2 separate regions of the Homo sapiens genome follow, and region 2 is linked to region 1. The links come from fine-mapping of genetic effects on gene expression. Tissue or cell type: whole blood. Region 1 holds a variant in brackets; the other region holds the start of a gene. All regions are shown on one strand. Distances are between the middles of the regions.

Region 1 (10,415 bases):
ATGTCCTTCAGTAAAGTATTATAGTTTTATTCATGTAGGTATTATACACTGAAGTTTACTTCTAGACATTTCATGTTTGTGTTCTAGTGAATTAGCTCATATTTTTCCATTACTTTTCTAACTGGCTATTGTCATATCCAGGAAAGCTGTTTTACAAATGTTTGTTGTTTCTAGCCACCTTACCAGTTCAAACAGTTTTTCAGTGGTAGTAGATAACCTCATTTATGAGAATATCAAGTTTTATTAAATTCTTTTACAACATTTTTATCTATCATTTTTTGTTTTGAGACAGTTTCACTGTGTCACCCAGGCTGGAGTGCAGTGATGTGATCACAGCTCATAGCAGCCTCGACTCCTCAGGCTCAGGTGATCCTCCCACTTCAGCCTTCCAAGTAGCTGGGACTACAGGTGCACACCACCATGACTGGCTAATTTTTTGTATTTTTAGTAGAGACAGGGTTTCACCATGTTGCCCAGGCTGGTCTTGAACTCCTAGACTCAAGTGATATGCCTGCCTTGGCCTCCCAAAGTGCTGGGATTACAAGATGAGCCACCATGCCTGGGCTTTATCTCTTACTTCTTTTCCTTGCCTTCTGGTATTGTTAGAATCCAGAATGCTGTTGGGTGGCACAGGTGTTCAGCATGCTTCCTTCCCTTGATCCTGACTTTATGATTTTATTATTATTTTGAGACAGAGTCTAGCTCTGTCACCCGGGCTGGAGTGCAGTGGCCCCATCTCAGCTCACTGCAACCTCCGCCCTCCACTTCCCAGGTTCAAGTGATTCTCCTGCCTCAGCCTCCCGGGTAGCTGGGACTACAGGTGCATGCCACCACGCCCAGCTAATTTTTTGTATTTTTAGTAGAGATGAGGTTTCACCATATTAGCCAGGATGGTCTCCATCTCCTGACCTTGTGATCCGCCCGCCTCGGCCTCCCAAAGTGCTGGGATTACAGGTGTGAGCCACCACACCTGGCCCGATCCTCACTTTAAAAGAAATAATTATAATATTTCAGTTAGGAATGGTGTTTGCTATAGTTTTTTGATACTCTATCAAGTTAACTAAATGTTCTTCTATTTCATCTTTTTTTCATTTTATTTTTTATGATATTAAAAACATTTTTTTGAGGTAGGGTTTTGCTCTGTCATCCAGGCTGGAGGACAGTGGCACAATCACGGCTCACTGCAACCTCCACCTCCAGAGCTCAAGCAATCTTCCCACCTCAGCCTCCCAAGCAGCTGGGACCACAGGCATGCACCACCACACCTGGCTAATTTTTTTTTTTTCTAGAGATGGGGTTTTGCCATGTTACCCAGGCTAGTCTTGAACTCAGACCTTCCCTTGAATGACAGAGCTCAATGTTAGCATGTCTGTAAGCAGGCCACCCTTTAGAGTGCCTGGATGGGTAATTGGAAGAGAATGTACAGGGCGACCAAACAAAGGAAGGTTTTACTTTGGTTGGTGGGTACTTCAGTATATTTTAAGTAGAGTGGGGCTTCCTTAAAAAAACTCTGGGCTAATAATGAAATTTTGGAATTACTTTTAACCCTACTTTCTTTCTCATCTCAATGCCTGTCCTTGGTATCTCTCCTTCACTCTTAGTACTTACAGATTTCATACCTTTGTGAGCTGGAGTATTTCATTTTCACAACTACTCCTGCAAGAGGAAAAACAACGCCTAGCCTAACTATTCCTTAAGTAGTCTTTTAATTTAATTACCTGGCTGTGTAATTTTATACTTCTGCCTGCTCACCTGGGCTTCATTCACAAGAACAGTTCTCATCTTGGTAGCTGATCTCTCTTATGACTACTTTGGAGGCTATACTTTCTGTATTCAGGCATTTTCATCAATCCAGTTTCATTTGCTTTCTCATTTTCAGAAAGGTATGAAAATTTCTCATCTCCTGATGGCATACTTTTCTTCTTTCATTGCTTTGATGGATTTATTATATTCTCCTATTTTTCTGTCACTTTAATGGGATTTTGAGGAGGAGGGAATACAGATATGTATTTTAACATCCTGAACCAGAAGTCTTGTTGCTGTTTATGCATACAAGAATTACTTAGTATAAAAAATAAGACGAATAGTTGAATTTTTCTAATTAAAATACAGATTATGCATGTTTGAGTAGATTATAAAAAAGAATGATTTTACATTGAGAGACATTAAATTCTTTATACATAAAAAAATTAATGAGACTAAATTTCACTGAGTATAGCAACAATAACCATTTATTTAGTGCCTTCAATGAAGGCACTGTACAGACCTACCTTGGAGGTATGGCAGGTTCAGTTCCAGACCACCTCAACAAAACAAATGTCGCAATAAAGCAAACCACAAATTTATTTCCCAGTGCATATAAAAGTTGTTCACATTACACTGAAGTCTACTGTACAACAGCATTATGTCTAAAAAATGCACATAAATTTTAAAATACCTTATTACTAAAAATTGCTAACAATTATGTGAACCTTCAGCAAGTGGTAATCTTTTTGCTGGTTGAGGGTTTTGCCTGGATATTGATGGCTGGTGACTGAACAGAGTGGTGGCTGCTGAAGGTTGAGTGGCTGTGGTAAAAAAGAGGATAATAATGAAGTTTGCTCCATTGACTCTTCCTTTCAAGAAAGATTTCTCTGTAGCATGTGATGCTGTCTGACAACTTTCTTTGCTCATCCATTAGAAGCAACTCCTCATCCCTTCAAGTTTTATTATTTGATTGCAGCAATTAAGTCACATCCTCAAGGCTCCACTTCTAATTCTAGGGGTTTTTGCTATTTTCACCATATCTGCATAATTCCTCCACTGAAGTCCTGAACCCCTCAAAATCATCCTTGAGAACTGGAATCTATTTCTTCCAAACTCCAGTTAATGTTGCCATTTTGATCTCCTCCTGTGAATTATGAATGCCATTAATTGCATCTAGAAGAGAATCCTTTCCAGAAGGTTTTCAATTTATTTTGCCCAGATCCATCACAGGAATCACCACCTATTATGGCTATAACTTTATGAAATGTATTTCTTAAATACTAAGTTAAAAGTAAAAGCGACTCCTTGATCCATGGGCTGCAGAATGAATACTAGCATGAAAACAATAAATCTCCTTGACATTTCTTTTTTCATCATTCAACTTGACTCCTTGACATTTCATTTTTTTGTTTTTTTTTTTTTTGAGATGGGGGTATAATTCTGTCAGCCAGGCTGGAGTACAGACAGTCATCTCAGCCCAATGCAACCTCCGCTTCCCAGATTCAAGCGATTCTCCCACCTCCGCTTCCTGAGTAGCTGGGACCACAGGCATGTGCCACCACACCCAGCTAATTTTTTGTAGAGACAGGGTTTTGCCATGTTGCCCAGACTGGTCTCAAATTTCTGAGCTCAAGGGATCCGCCTGCCTCAGCCTTCCAAAGCGTTGGGATTACACGCGTGAGCCACTGCACCTGGCAACTGCTTTTCTATTGGAGCTCTTGCATGACTAGGTGCATTGTCAATGAGCAGTAATATTTTGAAATAAATATATTTTTTCTGAGCAGTAGGTCTCAACAATGGGTTTAAACATTCAGTAAACCATGTTGTAAACAGATGTGCTGTCATCCAGGTTTTTTGTTCCATTTACAGAGCACAGGCAGAGAGTAGCTTTAGCAAATTCTAGGATTTTCAGAATGGTAGATGAGCATTGGCTTAATTTAACATCACCAGCTACACTACCCCCTAACAAGAGAGTCAGCCTGTCCTTTGAAGCCTGGACGCCGGACACTGACTTTTCCTCTCTCTCCATCAAAGTCCTAGATGGGCATCTTCTTCCAATACAGGGCTGTTTGATCTGCATTGAAAATCTGTTGTTTAGTATAGCCACCTTCATCAGTGACCTTACATAGGTCTCGGGGATAATTAGCTACATCTTCTATATTAGCACTTGCTGCTTCATCCTGCACTTTTATGTTATAGAGACAGCTTCTTTCTTTAAACCTCATGAGCCAACCTCTGCTGGCTTCAAACTTTTCTTCTGCAGCTTCCTCAGCTTTCTCAGCCTTCATAAAACTGAAGAGAGTTAGTTAGGGCCTTGCTCTGGATTAGGCTTTAGCTTAAGGGAATATTGTGGCTGATGTGATCTATCCAGACCACTCAAACTTTCTCCTTTTTGGCAATAACACTGTTTTGCTGTCTTATCACTCATGTCACTTTTAATTTCCTTCAAGAACTTTCCCTTTGCATTCACAACTTGGCTGTTTGGTGCAGGAGACCTCACTTTCGGCCTTTCTTGGCTTTTGACATACCTTCCTCATTAAGCTTAATCATTTCTAGCTTTTGATTTAAAGTGAAAAATGTGTGACTCGTCCTTTCATGTGAACACTTTAGAAGCCACTGTAGGGTTATTAATTGGCCTAATTTCAATATTGTTGTGTCTCAAGGAATAAGAAGGCCTGAGGAGAGGGAGAGAGTCAGGAGAATGGCCATTTGGTGGACAGTCAGAAATTACACAACATTTATCGATGAAGTTTACCATCTTATATGGGAACAGTTCATGGTGTCTCAAAACTATTACAATAATAACATCAAGGATCATGGATCACAAGTCACCATAACAGATATAATAACAAAAAAGTTTGAAATATTGCAAGAATTACCAAAATGTGACACAGAGACATGAAGTAAGCACACGCTGTTGGAAAATGATACCAATTGACTTGCTCAACACAGGTTTGCCACAAACTTTCAATTTGTAAAAAGCATGACATTTGTGTAGAGCAGTAAAGCAAGTGCAATAAAATGAGACCTGCCTACGCTAGGCTTTAAAAATATTATTTATTTTAATCTTTAGGTGGGATCTTTCTGATATTAGTGATTGTGTTCTCTTTTTCTAGATCAGTCTAGCCAGCAGTGTGTCAATTTTGTTCTTTTTAAAGAATCAGCTTTTGGTTTTATTGATATTCTTATGCTTTCCATCTTTTCAGTTTTACTGATTTTTGCTCCATGTTTATTACTTCCTTCTTCCTACTTTGAGCTTACTTTGTTCTTTTTTTCTAGTTTCTTAAGGCAGAACCATAAATCATTAATTTTAAATCACTTCTAACTACAGCACTTAAAGCTATGAGTTAACCTCTAAGCACCTCTTAGTTGTATCCCACAAATTTTGATATATTTTTGTTCATTCCACTCAAACATTATTCTAATTTCCTTTATGATTTTATCTTTGATTCAAATTATTTGAAAGTGTGTTCAGGTTTTTCTTGATCTCTTACTTATTCTTAGTGATTTGTAATTGAATTCTATTGTGGTCAGAAAATATGCTTGATTTAAAAGAAACCTTATTGGGGCTTAATTTTCATGTCATAACATTCACTCATATTAAGTCTACAATTCAATAATCTTTGTAGTAAATTTACCAACTTTTAGAACGTTTCTAATTTTAGAAAATCTTTACCACCCCAGTAAGATACCTCATGCCCATTTACAGTTAATCTCCATTGCCTTCCTAACACCAGGCAACCACTAATATACTGTGTCTACAGATTTGCCTTTTCTGGACATTTCATATCAATGGATTCATACAATATTTGGTCTTTTAAAATCTGGCTTAATCCACTTAAAATAAACATGTATTTGAGGTTCACCAATTTTTAAGGCATGTATCAGTATTTCGTTCTTTTGTATTGCTCAATTATATTCCACTGTATAACACATTTTACCTATTTTCCAGTTGACGGAAATTTGGGTTGTTTCCACTTTTTGGCTTTTATGAACAATGTTATGATTATTCACATAAAATCTTTGTGTAGTCTATGTTTTCATTTCTCTTGGGTAGATTATTTAGAGTGGAACTGCTGGGTCATATGTTAAATTAATGCTTAGCTTTTAAAGAAGCTGCCAAATTGTTTTCCAAAGTGGCTGTACCATTTTACATTCCCAACCAAAAAAGTATGAGGGTTCCCATTTCTCCACATCCCCTCCACTTGTCATCATCTTTTGGATTATAGCCATTCCTCTAGTGAGTGTGAAATGGGATTTCACTGTGGCTCCAAATGCAATTAATGCCTAATAACTAATTATGTTGAACATGTTTCATGTGCTTTTCGTCCATTAATATCTCTTCTTTGGTGAAATATCTATTTAGATCTATTTTTAACTTGGGTTGTTTATCTTATCATTGAGCTGTGTGAGTTGTTTGTATATTATGGATTCAAGTCCTTTACTAAATACAGAATTTGCGTATCTTTTCCCCAGTCTGTGGCTTTTCATTTTCTTACATTTTCATTTTTGGATCACAAAAGTCTTCAATTTTGATAATGCCTAACTTATCAATTTTTCCTTTTATAGACTGTTTCTGGTATCATACCTAAGAATTCTTGGCTTAATTCAAGGTCTTAAAAGATTTTCTTCCTATATTTTCTTCCAATTTTTTTTTTTTTTTTTTTTTTTGAGACGGAGTTTTGCTCTTGTTGCTGAAGCTGGCGTGCAATGGCGCGATCTTGGCTCACCGCAATCTCCGCCTCCGGGCTTCAAGCGATTCTCCTACCTCAGCCTCCCAAGTAGCTGGGATTACAGGCATGCACCACCATGCCTGGCTAATCTTTCGTATTTTTAGTAGAAACGGGGGTTTCACCATGTTAGCCAGGCTAGTCTTAAACTCCTGACCTCAGGGGATCTGCCCGCCTCAGCCTCCCAAAGTTCTCAGATTACAGGCATGAGCCACCACGCCCCGCCCACAATTTTTTTTTTTTTGAGACCGTGTCTCACTCTGTCGCCTAGGCCAGAGTGCAGTGGCGCAATCTCAGCTCACCGCAAGCTCCGCCTCCCGGGGTCACGCCATTTCCCTGCCTCAGCCTCCCGAGTAGCTGGGACTACAGGCGCCTGGCACCGTGCCCGGCTAATTTTTTGTATTTTTAGTAGACACGGGGTTTCACTGTGTTAGCCAGGATGGTCTAGATCTCCTGACCTCGTGATTCGCCTGCCTTGGCCTCCCAAAGTGTTGGGATTACAGGCGTGAGCCACCGCCAGCCCACAATTTTTATAGTGTTAGCTCTTACATTTAGACATCTTATCCTTTTTGTGTTAATGCTTGTATATAAGTTGAGTGTCTACATTCACCTACAGTCATCCCTCAGTATCCACAGGGGGTTGGTATTTGCA[C/T]ATAACCTATGCACATCCTCCTGTACAAGTTAAATCATCTCTAGGTTACTTATAATACCTAATACAATGTAAATGCTATGTAAATAGTTCTTATACTGTATTATTTGTATTTATGTAATATTTTCAATCTGTGGTTGGTTGAATCCATGGAAGCAGAACTTGCAGATACAGAAGTCTGACTGTATTTGCATGCAGATATCCAATTATCTCAGCACCATTTTTTGACAAAAACTATCATTTCCCCATTGAATTGCCTTGGCATCTTTATTGAAATTTAAATAACCATAAACATAAGAGTTTATTTCTGGAGTCTAAATTTTATTCTCTCATCTATTCATCTCTGTTTATGCTAGCAGCACAGTCTTGATAGCTGTAGCTTTGTAGTAAATTTTGAAATTGGGAAGTGTGAGTCCTCCAACTTTTTCTTTTTCCAAATTGTTTTGGCTATGCTGGGTCCTTCTATTTTCTATATTAATTTTAGGATCAGCTTGTCAAATTCTACAAAATCCTGCTAGAATTTTGATAGGTGCAATTTTGATATACATTTAGATGCCAATGTAGGGAGGGTTGCAGCTTAACAATACCGAGTCTTCAATTCCATGAACATGGCATGTCTCTCCATTTATTTAAATCTCTTTTAAAATCCCTCAGTAATGTTCTGTAACTCTTTACAATGTACTTTGATTTGGATCCTTTTCAATTGACTGAGGTTTTTTAAATAGCCAAACATAGTTTATCTTGATGACTGTACTGTATACACTTGAAAATAGTGTATTCTGTAGTTGTTGAGTGTATATTCTATAAATGTCAATTATATAAAAGTAGCTGATTGTGTTGCTGAGATTTGTCTTGACCAATTTTTGTTACCTCTTCTATCAACTGAGCGTTTTTAAATTTCCTACTCAGATTTAGAACTCCCCTTAATTCTACCAATTGTGTCATTGTTTTGAGGCTCTGTGATTTAGTGAATATACATGGATAATTATTGTGTCTTCCTGATGAACTGTTTCTTATAATCAATATTTTTCAGAGACAAAGTCTTGCTATGCTGCCCTGGTTGGCCTAGAACTCCTGGACTCAAGCAATCCAGACCTCCCACCTCAACCTCCTGAGTAGCTGGAACTACAGGAACACACCATAACATCCAACTCCTCATTATTATGAGATCAGTCTGTTGCTCAGGTTGGAGTGCAGTGGCACAATCATAGCTCACTACAGCCTTGAACTTCTGGGTTCAAGCAACACACCTGCCTTAGCCTCCTGAGTAGCTAGGACTACATAGGTATGTGCCACCATGGCCAGCTAGTTAAAATTAAAAAAAAAAAAAAATTGTACAGACAGGGTCTTGCTATGTTGCCCACGCTGGTTTCAAACTCCTGGCTTCAAGCAATCCTCCTGGCTTGGCCTTCCAGAGAGCTGGGATTACAAGCATGAGCCACCATGCCTAGCCAAAGTCTGCCTTTTAATTGAGGTGTTTAGATTGTTATCATTTAATTATTCATATGGTTAGATCTAGTCTATTTCTCTGTTCCCCCTTTCTTGGCCTCTTTAAGATTTCCTGTTCTCTGTAAGACTATTTGAATATTTTTATTGGCTTTTTGGCTACATCTCACTGTATTTTTTAACTCAGTGCTCCAGGGATTACAATATACATATCTAATCATTTAAAGTCTACTTGGAGTTAGTTTTATATCATTTCATATTTAATAATATAACTATAATGAAGGTCTGTGGGGTAAGTTCCTTTACTACTGATGTTCACTACTGTCAAACATCTATGCATATTTAAAATTCCATGAGATAATGTTACTATTTTTGTTTTGGACAATTATAGGTTTTTCTTTTCTTTTTTTTTCAGTTTAGGAGGCAAAAAAGTAATCTTTTCTAATAACCAGCTATTTACCATTTATTTTGCATTTATTTTATTCCTGAAGATGCAGGTTTCTCTTTGGTATCATTTTTCTTCAGTTTAAATAACTTCCTTCAGCATATCTCATAGAGCAATCCCATTGCTCATGAATTATTTTATCTGAAAATGTCTTTATTTCACCTTCACCCATGAAGAATATTTTCACTGGATATAAAATTCTGAGTTGACAGGTCTTTTCTTCCAATGCGTTAAAGGCACCATTCCACTAAATTCTTCCAAGGATTGTGATGAAAAGTGCATGGGTACATTCAAATCTTTATGGCTCCGTAGGTAATGAATAATTTTTTAACAGCTTTCAGTGTATTTTAATTTTTTTTTAGCAGCCGTTTTCTTGTTAGCAGGTGAATATCTCTGATTTTTAGTTTACTTTTGATGTGTGCAAGTGTGGTTTTGAGTTTAATTCTGTCTGTAATTTGCTGAGTCTCTTGTATCTATAAATCTGTATCTTTTACCAATTTTGGAGGTTTCAGCCATTATTTTTTCAAATCTTCAAATATCTTTTCTAACAGAATCTCTCTTCAGTTCTTCTGGAACTCCAGTTATCCATATTTCATTTGTTCCTTTTGATATTGTCACACAAGTCCCTGAGGCTGTTTATTTTTATAAAAATCTTTTCTCTCTTCTTCTAATTTCTATTACTGTATCTTTAAGTTTACTTTTCATTGTCATCTCCATTCTGTTATTTAACCCATTTGATCAGTTTACATTGGATTATATTTCAGTTATAAAATTTGTTTTAATACATTCTATTTCTTGCTAGAATTTATTTTAATTTATTTCAAATGTGTTTTCCTTTACCTAAAGGAACCAGTTATGGAAGCTGCTTTAAAGTTTTTCCCTGATACTTCCAACATCTGAGTCATTCTGGAGTTGTCTTTTCCTTGAGAACTGGTCACATTTTCCTGGTCCTTTATACCAAGTAATTTTGGATTTTATCTTGGACACTGAATATTATGTTATGTAGCCTGGGTACTGTTATAATACTTCCGAGATTGTTGATGCTCTTGTTTCAGCAGGCAAACACTTGAGTTATATTCAGACTGTAATTTGTGTTTTACTTTTTGTAGGCAGTGAACTTGCAGTTCAGTTACTTAAGCCTTTTCTATTCCAGTTTGCATCTGTCCCATAACTGTGCAGGTCAAGGGGTAGGGTGAAACTTGTATGGGATTCCCCTCAAACTTTCTGCACAAAGAGGCCTCTTTCTCAGGCTTCTCTGTTCAGGAAATATGGGGTTTCTCTTGAAGTTTATCTGCCAGAGGTGCCATGCCATGATGTGACTGCCCTTGGGGCAAAGATGCATGAGGAAAGGAAATGATAAACTCATTTCTGTGTTGGTCTCTCCCCAGAAACTGCCTGC
Region 2 (8,000 bases), 150 kb before region 1:
GCCCAGGCTGGTCTCGAACTCTTAAACTCAAGCGATCCTCCCACCTCAGCCTCCCAAAGCATTGGGATTACAGCATAAGCCACCATGTCCAGCCCCACCCTGGAGTTTTATAGTTCACCAGAATGATACTCTTTCTTCTCTCCATTTCTATTTTTTTTCTTGTTAGATTTCTCTTGCAGAGAGGGGTCCATAATAGTGGGGTCTCTTTGCAGAAAAATTTAGAAACAGCTGATAAGAGCATTAGAGGGAACCAAATCCAACTCATCAAATTTACCTAATTTGATGAATGTGGAAACTCAGGCCTAAAGAAGTCATTTTGCAGTATGTTACTAGTGGTCAAACCAGGCTGGATAGGCCCACTTCCACTGGACCTTTCTTATGAAGCATCTGAGGCAAAATGCCAACATTCAGTCTTCTTCTATATCAATAGCTTTCACCTTGGTAGAAGTCAGCTGATAAGCCTCAGGTTTCAAATACGCTGAATTAAAATTATTCTATTTTTTATTACCCACCTACCAGGATGGCTAAAATTAAAAACATTGGCTGGGGGTGGGGGTGGTGCTGGAAAAAAAAAATTAGGCTGGGTGCTGTGGCTCACGCCTGGGAGGCTGCAGCAGGAGGATCACTTGAGCCCAGGAGTTTGAGACCATTTGAGCCTAGAAGTTTGAGACCAGCATGGCCAACATGGTGAAACCCCATCTCTACTAAAAATAAAAAAATTAGCCAGGTGTGGTGGTGCACACCTATAATCCCAGCTACTTGGGAGGCTGAGGTAGGAGAATCATTTGAACTGCGGAGGTAGAAGTTGCAGTGAGCTGAGATCGCGCCAATGCACTCCAGCCTGGGCAACAGAGCAAGACTCTTTCTCAAAAAATAAAATAAAATAAAATAAAATAAAATTAAATTAAAAAGTCTGAAAATACTAGGGATATAGAGCAACTAGAACTTTCAAACATTGCCGTGGAATGTAAATTGACCAAAACACTTTGTAAAACTGCTTAGCACACCTACTAAAGCTAATCATACACCTGTGTAACCTAGCAATTCCCTTCATAGGTATTTATTCCAAGATAATTAAGAGCATTTATCCCCAAAAGACAGGTACACAAATATTCAGAGCAGCTTTATTTGTAATAGCTAAAAACTAGAAACAACACAAATATCCATCGATAGGAGAATGGATAAATAATTTGTGGTATACTCATATAGTCAACTACTACAGAGCAAAACCAAAAACTAAAAGAATGAATTACTGATTCACTCAGCAACATGGATAAATCTCATACACATTATGTTGATGAAAGAAACCAAGGCCCGGTGCGGTGGCTCACATCTGTAATCCCAGCACTTTGGGAGGCTGAAGCGGGTGGATCATGAGGTCAGGAGTTCAAGACTAGCCTGGCCAAGATGGTGAAACCCCGTATCTACTAAAATACAAAAATTAGGGGCCAGGCACGGTGGCTCATGCCTGTAATCCCAGCACTTTGGGAGGCTGAGGCAGGCAGATCACGAGGTCAGGAGTTAGAGACCATCCTGACCAACATGGTGAAACCCCGTCTCTACTAAAAATACAAAAATTAGCTGGGCGTGATGGCGGACAGCTGTAATCCCAGCTACTTGGGAGGCTGAGGCAGGAGAATCGCTTGAATTGGGAGGCCGAGGTTGCAGTGAGCCGAGACTGCACCACTGCACTCCATCCTGGGTGACAGAGCAAGACTCTGTCTCAAAAAAAAAAAAAAGAAAAAAGAAAAAGAAACCAGACACTGTAGGTTCCATTTATATAAAATTCAAGAACAGAACAGACAAAAAAGACTCTATGGTGATATATCAGGATAGTAATTACTGAGAGGCAAAGATATTTTAACATGAAATAACCTCTGGGATACTGGAAATATTCCAGATCTTGATCTAGGTGATAATTACATGGATATATACATATAGAAAAATTCAGCTTAAACTGAATATTTAAGATTTACCCATGTTCTATATGTAAACTACATCTCAATGTTTTTAAAAAGTGCCCCATATTGCATCTGCATTGTAGTAAACACAATACAATAAAATACCTTTATCATAAAAAATATTTTATCGTTAAAATTCAAGACTGTCAACGTCACTGCTTTCATCAACTCATTCTTGGCAGATTGCATTGGTCTCCCATTGCTTTGCCTACTACCAATTCCTCCTCCTCTCTGACAGGTCTTTCTTGCTGAGCACATTTGATTTTACTAATCTCCAGGTTAACAAACTTCCTTGGCTCCCATGTGTCTGTGGGATACAGTATAGGCACCTCAGTGAAGCAAACAAAGACTTTCCTAATGCACCCTCTGCCTTTCCAGATTCAGGGCGACCTCTCTCCTCTATGCCTTTAATCCCTAGCAGCAGAACCTCCTTCCACAACCCTCTCTCTTTTTTAAATTTTAAGACAGGGCCTCACACTGTCACCCAAGCTGGAGTGCAGTGGCGCGATCTCGCCTCCTGGGCTTAAGCAATTCTCCCACCCTAGCCTCCCGAGTAGCTCGGACCCCAGGGGCGCGCCAACCACGCCCTGCTAACTGTTGTATTTTTTGTAGAGACAGTGTATTGCCATTTTTCCCAGGCTGGTCTCAAACTCCTGGGCTCCAGCGATCCTCCCGCCTCGTCCTCCCAAAGTGCTGGGATTACACGCGTGAGACGCTGCACCTGGTCCACATCTTTTCACCTGTGAACGAAGCAAGCGCCCTGTGCTTCCACGGCCTACCTGGTTCTTACTCAGTCAAATTCCTACTCGCATTTCACCATCCCGTTCTCAAGGGTTGGCTCTCAAATGTCTGACAATGGTTCCCACGGCCCTCAGTTCCTATCATCATAAACTCTTTGTGAGCTCAGCACATTCATTATATGAAAACTCTCTATATTTTATTCTGTCCACTCTTGAGCTAAATGTTTCCAGAGAGCTAGCAGAATTTGTTTTCAGCGTTAGATCCCTCTGCTAAACAAACGGGTGCTAATAGAATCACTTTGCTAAATAAATGGGAGCTAACAGGATTGAATATGAGTTCCATTTTTGTCCCAGAGTTCTAGTTTTCATATAAATATTTCTTCCCATTAAATTCTTCTCTGCAGAAGAACTTGGGGATGAAACCCGATACAGACAAGACAGCTTAAGTAAGACATAAATGAGTGTTGTCTCTAGTTTGAGTTTCCTATTTTTTTGAGACAGTCTCCTGCACTGTCCAATAGAATAGCCACCAAAAATATGGATATTTAAGTTTAAATTAGAAGTGAATAAAGTTGGCCGGGCGCGGTGTCTCACGCCTATAATCTCAGCACTTTGGGAGGCCAAGGCGGGCGGATCACCTGAGGTCGGGAGTTCGAGACCAGCCTGACCAACATGGAGAAACCTCGTCTCTACTAAAAATACAAAATTAGCCGGTGGCGCATGCCTGTAATCCCAGCTACTCGGGAGGCTGAGGCAGGAGAATCACTTGAACCCGGGAGACAGAGGTTGCGGTGAGCCGAGATCGCGCCATTGCACTCCAGCCTGGGCAACAAGAGAGAAACTCCGTCTCAAAACAAAACAACAACAACAACAAAAAAAAAACAGAAGTGAGTAAAATTGAAAATTCGGTTATTCAGTTCAAGTACTCAAAAGCCTCATGTGGCTAGTGGCTACCGTATTAAAGAGCGCAATGTGCAATATTTCCATCATCACCTACAGTTTTATTGGGCAGCGCTGCCCTGGTCTTTATTTTCCCTTGTTGGAACGCTCTTCCACGCTGCTCCCACACCATGTCCCCTATCACCATTATTATCCTCATTTCATCTGTAATTACTTGCATCTTTTAATAGGCTGGGAGTTCTAAGACAGAAGGGACTGTGTCTCACTTCTGTTGTTCCAGTGTTTAGCTTTGAAACCCAGGCACACAGTAGGTACTCAGTAAACAGAATGCGAAGGACCGTCCAGAGACACCAGTCCCAAACCCTTTTCCAGGCTGATCGGTCCCCCATAAGTCTCCAGCCTTTTTTATTTTAAAGCTTATTTTAAAGCATGTCCCTGAAGACGAGTGGGGAGAGCAGACCACCCGCTGATTCCAATTCCCTAGGCGGCCGCGGCGAGCTGCGGCGTCTCTGTGCCCCGGCCTGCCCCTATCCCGCCTGCGCCCCGCCCCCGCCCGGCTCGCGCCAAGGCCCGCTGCTGGCGCCGCCGCCATCCCGGCGCGTCACTGCGCAGGCGCGGCCCGCGAGCGTGGGGTATCTCGAGGTGCCGGGTTGCAGGCGCTCAGGAGCGCTAGGGTTTGAGGCCTGCTTTCTGCTCGCGCCAGCAGAGCACTACCTGAGGCAGCGAGGCGCAGCGAGCCTAGCCTCCCCGCGCCCTGGGCAGTGTGGCCATGGAGAATCAGGTGTTGACGCCGCATGTCTACTGGGCTCAGCGACACCGCGAGCTATATCTGCGCGTGGAGCTGAGTGACGTACAGGTAAAGGCCGGGTCGGGCGGCGGGAAGCGCGCGGGATCGCGGCTCCGGGTACCCGCCAGGACCCCTGCCCCCTTTGTCCGCGTGCGCGCCGGAGAGCCTGCAGTGCGCCAACAAGGTCGGCGACGCGGTGCGCTTACGGCGTGCTGGCGCTTTTCGAGGCTCATCTGCAGATCTCGGGCCGGGGGCACAACCCCCCGAGGGCTGCAGGAACCTTCGGGTCCCCAGAGAGCTCGGCCTGGGCCTCTCAGGCTACCCCGGGCCTCTTCTTTGTTCGCAGTCGGCGGCCTTCATGGAGCCCAGGCCCGGCCCTGGCTGCCTGGCCGTCGGGGTTCGAGTTGGCTGGGGCCCTTCGAGATGTGGGATGAGCTTGTTGGGTCAGGGGTGCGGTTGTGACAGCGGCTTGCTGGGCCGTAGCTGAATGCCTGCCGCTGGCCTGAGAGGTCCAGCCAGGCCCCTCGGACGTTACTGAGGCTGGGCGCTGCCGGAGGTGGGGGAGGGGGAGGGGTGGGGGGCCACACCCACCTCGCAACCGTTCAGTGATGGAAATCATTCTCATTACTTTTAATTTTAAAATTCACAAGAGCTGGAGGAAGTGATTTCCCCCTCTGTTCTGAAGGTTGTGAGCTCAGGTTTGCTGAGTTGCACAGAGAACTTAAAAAGTTCTTAAGTTACATTAAGCATTTCTGTTTGAGCTCCTTGGCCCTTAATGTAAGCAAGCTGAAGGCACGTAGTAGTGGAGACTCCAGGACCTGTGTATCCTCATGTCTCTGTCCAAACTAAAGATTCTGGGCTTTGAGAAACTGGAATTTTCATTCTGGAAGGTTCTTTCTTTCTTTCTTTCTTTTTTTTTCTTTTCTTTTTTTTGAGACGGTGTTTCGCTCTTGTCGCCCAGGCTGGAGTGCAATGGCGCGATCTCGGCTCACCGCAACCTCTGCCTCCCGGGTTCAAGGGATTCTCCTGCCTCAGCCTCCCGAGTAGCTGGGATTATAGACGCGTGCCACCATGCCCGGCTAATTTTTGTATTTTTAGTAGCGACAGGGTTTCACCATGTTGGCCAGGCTGGTCTCGAACTTCTGACCTCAGGTGATCCACCCGTCTCGGCCTCCCAAAGTGCTGGGATTACAGGCATGAGCCACCGCGCCCAGCCTCTGGAAGGTTCTTTCTACAGTCATTCTTATTGGAAACTTCTCCTTAACATCTATGGCACTTTGTCATCTCTTTCACTCCATTTAACTCTCTCTGCCTCTGAACAGGCATCTGCTTGGATCACCCGTGGATCCGGTAAAATGTAGGTGCTTTCTGAGTGTCGACTTGAATTTATTGAATTTAATATAATCTTTGCTTCTGGAATATAAACAGTTTTCCTGTTGAAAGATGAAGACAGTAGTGGCCAGAATGCCTTTAAATAGGCTATGACATTGCATGGTGTGTCGTTTAATGTGTTCATCCAGACTGAGGCTATACTTTTGGGTCAGAGTATGAGTAAATGTTCTGTGCTGTCTCCCTCTACTGCTCCACGGTGGTTTAATAGAATAGGAAAAAACAAACAAAATCTTTTGTAGATGGGGATCAAAGTCCCCGTCTAGAGAGGGTTCTTCCAGCAGTCAATAAAAAAGTACGGAACAGGCCAGGTGCTGTGGCTCACGCCTGTAATGCCAACACTTTGGGAGGCCGAGGCGGGAGGATCACCTGAGGTCAGGAGTTCGACACCAGCCTGACCAACATGGAGAAACCCCATCTCTACTAAAAATACAAAATTAGCCGGGCATGGTGGTGCATGCGTGTAATTCACTATGTTGGCTACTCGGGAGGCTGAGGCAGGAGAATTGCTTGAACCCGGGAGGCGGAGGTTGCGGTGAGCTGAGATGGTGCCATTGCACTCCAGCCTGGGCAACAAGAGTGAAACTCTGTCTCAAAAAAAAAAAAAAAAAAGTAACCATCTAAAAATTTTTGGGGAAAAATAAATCATTTTTCCCCCTTATTGAGTTTTTGTTTTCTCTGGGGTTTCACATCTGTAGTTTTGAGGCACCCATATTTCAACTACCATTAGTTTAAAAGCATGATGTTACCCTCATAAAAGAGTGTTTACATGTGTTAGCAATCCTCTAACACATGTAAGGTAGTACAGATTTACAAAGGTGAGTCAGACCCAGCTTTTCAAGGGCATGCTATCTAGAAGGAGGCGTATCATATACAAACAAAAAGTTTTGTGTAGGAGTATGTTTATTGGTAGAATTGGAGTTGGATGTTGAACCAGGTATCTGGTGTTAAAGGAATTTGTTACCTTTCTTTCATTTAGTTAGTGATGACTTCCAGAAATGAGAATTATTTTTGTCAAACTAAGACTGGGAGAATGTTCCAGAAAGAGAAAGGCATAGACTTTTAGACACTTGTAATCTCTGACTTAAGCCGTGTCAATGCCCAAAGGCCACCAATAACACACCCGTAGTTAAACAAGTTGGGTTTATTACTCATTGCATTGAGAGAGCATACTCCATGGGGAACCCTGGGGTGTTTCATTAGGAGGGTGTTAGAACTGATTATAGGATTTGGGTGTTGGTGATTAGGGGAGGGGAGGGTTAAGGAGGTTGGGTTTCACTTCAGATAAGATCCTGTAAGAAAATATGGGAGTTTCGTGGTTGGGTATCTGAATAAATCTTACCTGTAGGGCAGGGAGACTAGTATAAGAACAAAACTGTAATTGCTACAGGAGTAGCAGTCACTCAATTTGGCCAAAGGGTGTTTGGTATTTCGTGAGTGGCATAGCCACTATGTATTTGTCTGTGCTTATAACAAAATTGTGAAATGGCCTTTGTCTCATTTTATGAGGATTTCAGAGTAACCTTGTCTGAGGTTGGTATTCTGTGAGATTGTTTATGTCCCATAGGAGAATAACATGGCCTGGCTGTGAGTGCTATGCCTGCTTCTGGAGTGTCACGGGTTGCCTTTTTTTTTTCTTTCTCAACTGATTGCTCTATGCAGGGCCTGTTGAAACCAGTGGTTTTACATGTGCAGATTTGTTATTTAAAAAAAAAAAAAAGAAAGAAAAGCAGCCGGGTGTGGTGGCTCATGCCTGTAATCCCAGCACTATGGGAGGCCGAGACGGGCGGATCATGAGGTCAGGAGATCGAGACCATCCTGGCTAACACGGTGAAACCTCGTCTCTACTAAAAATACAAAAAAATTAGCCAGGCGTGGTGGCGGGCGCCTATAGTCCCAGCTACCAGGAGGCTGAGGCAGGAGAATGGCGTGAACCCGGGAGGTGGAGCTTGCAGTGAGCCGAGACTGCGCCACTGCACTCCAGCCTGGGGGACAGAGCGAGACTCCGTCTCAAAAAAAAAAAAAAAGAAAAGAAACCAGTGGTTCTGGCTCTGGATGAAGCACTTCATTTATTTGTTCAGTAAAAATCGTTTATGGAGTACCTACTCTTGTCTATCATTAAGCTAGGTGTGGGGTTCTTGGACAGCACTTTAACACTCTCTGCTTTCTATAGCATGACCCACAGCTTATGTGTAAGTGTGAGTTTTAAAGTGTTAAGTTCCA

What was found. PIP is the estimated chance that this variant, and not a neighbour inherited with it, causes the effect.
Region 2: HACD3 starts here. The variant in region 1 is fine-mapped to the expression of HACD3 in whole blood (TOPMed, PIP above 0.99).

The regions. Positions count from the first base shown.
Region 1 is chr15:65,678,425-65,688,839 of GRCh38, forward strand. All of the region lies in intron 23 of DENND4A (DENN domain containing 4A), which reads right to left. Among named protein-coding and RNA genes, the nearest start is that of SNORD13E, 13 kb to the right of the region's middle. The variant C/T (reference allele first, on the strand shown) is at 7,129.
Region 2 is chr15:65,526,262-65,534,261 of GRCh38, forward strand. HACD3 (3-hydroxyacyl-CoA dehydratase 3) reads left to right here and starts at 4,202. Exons shown (of 11, transcript NM_016395.4): 1 at 4,202-4,457. The coding sequence starts at 4,371. RefSeq lists an enhancer at 2,526-3,026 and a silencer at 4,065-4,284.